2 separate regions of the Homo sapiens genome follow, and region 2 is linked to region 1. A link means that fine-mapping ties the variant in region 1 to the expression of a gene that starts in the linked region. Tissue or cell type: prefrontal cortex. Region 1 holds a variant in brackets; the other region holds the start of a gene. All regions are shown on one strand. Distances are from middle to middle.

Region 1 (2,671 bases):
GAGGCCCTTTTATACCAGTTCTTCTGGGAATAAAGTTCTGATCTCCTCGAGGGTTGTGGGCGATCCGAGCGTGGGACCTTCCCCGGGGTGCCGCCCCATTTCAGCTGCTGAGGAGGGACAGTGTGGGTGTTCGGTGGCTGCGATGGCTTGGGTTCGGATGGTTTCTGGTTTTCGGATCAGAGCTTTACTTGGTGAGTGGTTGAGTATTGGTCTGGGTTTAGGTTTCAGTGGGCCAGACTCCACAGGTGCTCCCTGTGACAGCTGGAGCTTGTGTCCTGAGCCAGCCACTGGCCGCTGGGGCGTTCTGTCTGGCCAGTTTTAAGAAGTAACTTGGCTTGCCCTAGATGGATTTGAACTCTTGGCTTTGTTAGCATTTTGCCATCTAAGTTCCTTCTCCAAGTCCTCCCAGCCATCGTGTCATTAGAACGTTCTGGAAATGTCACTAAAATGTGCCCGGAAATAAGTGCATCAAGATAGATTGGTGGCTCTTGGTGTGGCCATCTGCACCTGTCCTGGCCCCAGAAGCTGTGCTGCCTCTTCCGCATGGAGGAGCAAAGCGCAGGTCGCTCCTGAGGCTGAGCTCCGCTCCTCCTGGGCCCTGGGTCCTCCGCAGACACGTCCCACCCACTGCTCTTCTCTCTGCCAGAAGCTGCCGGCCATGAGGACGCATGGGTGGGCGCTGTGGAGAGTGCAGGCTTGGGGGTAGAGACCAGTGATGGCTCTGCAGAGCTTAGCCTCAGAGTAGGGGCGTGGTCCAGGAGAGGCCACGACAGGGACAAGCAGGGCGTTCGCATGCTGTTGAATTCCTTCATGACGAAAGGAGCAGGTCGTCCTCCCGGGAGAGGGGAGCGCTTGATGACGCCCCGAGATCTGTGTGTGGGAGTGCCTCTCAGCACCAGGCCCCTCCTGGGTTCTTGGAGTGCATCCGTGAAAGAAGGCCGATTCCCTGCCTTCTCACACGTTCCCCCGAGCGAGGGCTTGGTTCGGTGCTGAGATGCGTGGAGGACTGTGGTTTCTGTGATGTGTGGAGAGGCAAGTGCGGCTGCGGCCTGGTGGGAGGCTGCTTGCTGGGCTCCCCACGCACGTCCCCTGATGTGAGTTTCATGTCACTTGACCAGGAAATGCTTGAATGTCCTCCAGAGAAAAATGAGGCACTTCATGAACCTGTCCGGGCGGCACCCACACAATCCTGCCCGCCTGT[G/A]GGCCGTCCGGAGACAGAACCTCCCAGGCAGCTGTAAGCTGTTGTGGCAGCAGGGACTGTAGGAGTTGGCGTGGCCTGCAGCTGACGGCGCCAGCATGGAGAGGGTGCAGTTCTCCCTGGTCCTGAAGAATGTGTGGCCAAGAAGCCCGAGGCGGGGAGGGTTCCTTGGGGCCAGAGGGTGGCGTTCCCAGCAAAGGACAGTCCTTCTGGTGTCACAGTCTCCTTTTTCACACTGGAATGTTCTTTGTTTTGTGAAGGGATGGCGATGGTCACAGTGGTGGTTTCTCGAAGTTTACGTGACAACATGTAAAAATGGGCATCTCTAGGTGGGCTTTTGTGACATCTGAACTTCTGATGGGGCAGCCGTGATACTGCAGTGAGCTGGGAGGTCCACCTCACCAGTTACCATGCTTGATCATTTTCATAAACTTGCCCAGGGAATAAAAACTGGTTGGGGAGGGCTCCTGGGCCCCCATAGAGTAAGGGGTGACTTCAGGCCCCACCACAAGTCAGCAGTACAGCTGGCCTGTCCCTCAGCATGCCCCTGCACACCTGCGGCCACTGTGGCCTGTCCCTCAGCGTGCCCCTGCACACCTGCCGCCACTGTGGCCTGTCCCTCAGCGTGCCCCTGCACACCTGCGGCCACTGTGCCCTGTCCCTCAGCGTGCCCCTGCACACCTGCAGACACTGTGACACATCACTGCAGACGCAGTAGTTCAGATGACACGGCTGTATCAGCTTCTGGTTCTGGGGTCAGAGTCCAAACAGTCCACAGGGCTCCATTCCTTCTGGAGGCTCTGGGGGACAACTCGTTTCCTGCCTTTCCCAGTGTCCAGAGGCACCTGTGTGCCTTGCCTCGGGGCCCCTTCCTCCCCATTCACAGCCACAGCGCAGCCTCTCTGACTCTCAGCCTCCCGCCTCCTCTCATGAGGTCACCCAGGATCACCTGCCATTTTAAGATCCTCAAGCCCACCTGCACATCCCTTTTCTGCCATGAGGGGACATGTTCACAGGTCCCAGGGATTAGGATGTGGACATCTTTTGGGGGCAGTGATTCACTCAGTCTCATGGGCCCCATCTCTCTGAGCTCACCCAAGACCCTTAAACCAGGGCCCGGGGCCAACATTGAGCAGGCAAGGGAAAGACTACCAGGAGATGAGAGGAGGCTGCCTGGAACTCAGATTTGCACAGAGCCTGAAAGGGCGTGGGAGACCTTGGCAGAGGCCTGCATCAGGAAGAGGATGTTGGGGACTCAGCAGAGCCCCCTGCGCCACAAGCAGATGTGGCAGATCTCCCAGGTGTTACTCAGTGAGGATGCGAAGATCAGTGTCCTCACTGATCTCCGCCTAACAAATTTACATCGAGCCCAAGAGATTAGGTTGGGACAAGTAAGCGTAGCCAACCAGAGAGGGAATTCAGAGGAAGGCGTGAACACTAGGGGCTTGGGCAGTCCGGGATGGCTTCCTGGAG
Region 2 (2,678 bases), 970 kb before region 1:
GGAGTAACGCTGCTTTGCTTTGGCAGGTTGAAGGGGCCCGGCCAGGACTCGGGGAAGGGTGGCCTGAGAGCAGCGATGACCTCTGGGGTCACTGTCCCAGGAGGGACTTCACCTGGAACAAGAGCTGGAGGCAGCCGCTTGCCCAGGAGGCTTGTCCCCTGTAAGTGCTTTCGGGAAGAGTGGCATGTGGCGCTGAGCCCTGTCCCGGGCGGCACCTGGGCGTTTCAGTGAGTCCTGCTCTCCCGCACCTATGGCCCCATGGCGGGCGCCTTTCGGTGTGTGTTGGGTGCAGGGCAGCGCCTCCCGGGAGCGCCGGGTCCCCCGCCTGGAGCCCGCGCCTGTTCTCCCTCCCTTCCTCCTCCTTCCAGGAGGCGCTTCGCCAGTGAGGTGCGGGCTCAGGGCCTCGAGTCTCTCCTGGAGCACGGGCTGCGGTGCGCCGGCAGCTTACGGGGCGGCCAGTCCTTGCCCACAACGATGTGGAGCCCTGTGAAAGTCGGATTCGAATAAAGGGCCACGTGTGCACCCAGAAAGCCGAGTCTGTGGTTCAGGGGGGTCTGTCGGCGGAGCGGGGCCACTGGAAGAAAAGCCTGCGGACCTCGGTTCAGCGCACGAGTAGGACCCGACAGGGAAGACTGCAAGGGTCATTGTCCGAGCAGTGACCGCGGGGGGCTCGCCACTGAGGGGGTTCGCAGCGCGGAGACTCCAGTCTCGCGGGATCTGAGGCGCACTCGGCTTCGAGGGAGCGGCGGCCGCGCAGCCGCTGTCAGGCCCCGTCTTGGGCCGAGTCCCGGGTTCCCTGTAGCAGGCTTGGGAGCGGGGCGCCACCTTCCTGGGCCCTGGACGTGGCCGACGCGTTCTCAGTGTCCGTGAGGCCGGGGCAGGAGTGGCGGGGGTCGCCCCGAAGTGGGTGGGAATGAGCGGCCCGAGGTCCTGAAGTCGGGGTCCGCCCCGTCTCCCCGCTGCCAGCCCGATTTCCTCGGAAGCCGCGACCCCCCACGCTGGGCTGGCAGTTCTGGGCTCTGCCGGCTGCGCCTTGCCGGGACTCCCACGGGCGGGCTCCGGGCCTCCGTCCTGATCCCTTGGAGCGGTTCGACGAAGCAAGTTCCGCGGCGGGCGCGCGGGGCACTGTGGGTAGCGCCGGGGCTCACCAGGCGGAGGCGGGGCCCGGCGTCAAGCTCCGCCTCCGCGCCCCATTGGCTGGCATCACCTCCGCGCGCCTGACTGACAGCGCGCATAGGGGCGGGGCGCCGCCACCGCTTCCGCCGGGCCATGGGGCCGCGCGTGCTGCAGCCGCCGCTGCTGCTGCTCCTGCTGGCGCTGCTGCTGGCGGCGCTGCCGTGCGGTGCCGAAGAGGCCTCGCCGCTGCGCCCCGCGCAGGTCACGTTGTCGCCGCCGCCGGCCGTGACGAACGGGAGCCAGCCGGGCGCGCCACACAACAGCACGCACACGCGTCCGCCGGGGGCGTCGGGCTCGGCGCTGACGCGCTCCTTCTACGTGATCCTGGGCTTCTGCGGCCTGACCGCGCTCTACTTCCTGATCCGGGCGTTTAGGTGCGTCAGGCGCACGTGGGCGCCGTCTCTCAGCCTTGGCCAATTAGCGCGCGCCTAGTGCGTCACGTGCCGGGCCGCGGGGTCCTCCCCTCCCTCCCTCCCTCCCTCCCTCTCTCCCTGTTGGAGTGGGCGTGGGCGGTGCTGTGCGGGGTCGTCACGTGGTGTGGGCGGTGCAGGGGCCACGGGACTCACCCGCTCTCCAGCCTGCGCCTGGGGTTGGAGGTGCCCAGCGCGCCGCCTCTTAACTCGGGGGTGACGCTGCCCGTTTCCCAGGTGGGGCCACTGAAGCCGGAGCATGCCGGGCAGGGGTCAGGCCCTGGCGGGGCGAGGGGGCCTCCTTGGCTCCTTGTCGCCGGATGCCCGTCCTCGTTCTCATCTTCCCGCCTGCCGCCAGGCCTTTCCGTGGGGTCCCGATATTTTCCTTTCTGCTTCTACCCACTGAAGCTGGTTCGTCGCCAGGGTCGGCCACGTGCCCGCCTTGGGTGCTCCCACAGCCCGGGAGGTGCAGCTGCGTCCCCAGACCCTCGCGGGGGTCTCCAGCTGTAGGCAGCCCCTGGGCAGGAGGGGCTTCTGCGTGTTCAGGCCACCCCGGCTTCCCTGGCCTGTGGCTCCAGTCTCCTCTGGGCTCCTGACTACCCAGTGTGGCTGCTTCTCCCGGGTGGGAGAGACACAGCGAGGACCTTATCCCTCCCCATCACCACCCTGGCAAAGTCAAGCCGCTTTTTATTTTTTATAAGTTTTTATTGTAGCGATGGGGTCTCGCCATGTTACCCGCGCTGGTCTGAACTCCTGGGCTCAAGTGATCCTTTTTCGTTGGCCTCCCAAAGTGCTGGCATTATAGATGTGAGCACCTGCACTCCGCCATGCTGCTTTTTATGGGCCCTGTGCAGAGCCTCCCCTGTGCTCCACACCTCTTCCTGTGGAAGCACCTGCTGCGCGCTCTCCCCTGCCTGTATGCCGCGCCCTCCCTGCCTCCCGGGCTGCTGGGGCCACCAGGGGCTTGGCCCTGAGACAGGCTTCCATTCTGTTGTCTTTGGCAAAGTCTCACCCCTGTGTGAGCCTCAGTCTTTTCATCAGTGCAATGGGAGTGACATCAGCGTGCCTCTCCTGGGGTCCTGGCGCAGGGGA

What was found. PIP is the estimated chance that this variant, and not a neighbour inherited with it, causes the effect.
Region 2: FAM174C starts here. The variant in region 1 is fine-mapped to the expression of FAM174C in prefrontal cortex (GTEx, PIP 0.99).

What each region holds. Positions count from the first base shown.
Region 1 is chr19:2,240,342-2,243,012 of GRCh38, forward strand. The region is part of intron 1 of SF3A2 (splicing factor 3a subunit 2); the gene reads left to right. Among named protein-coding and RNA genes, the nearest start is that of SF3A2, 4.9 kb to the left of the region's middle. RefSeq lists enhancers at 1-128, 1,829-2,123 and a silencer at 2,342-2,539. The variant G/A (reference allele first, on the strand shown) is at 1,202.
Region 2 is chr19:1,274,281-1,276,958 of GRCh38, forward strand. FAM174C (family with sequence similarity 174 member C) reads left to right here and starts at 1,250. Exons shown (of 3, transcript NM_017914.4): 1 at 1,250-1,550. The coding sequence starts at 1,270. CIRBP (cold inducible RNA binding protein) reads left to right here. Exons shown (of 6, transcript NM_001300829.2): 6 at 1-530. RefSeq lists silencers at 757-981, 880-939, 950-1,319, 1,650-1,719 and an enhancer at 2,280-2,359.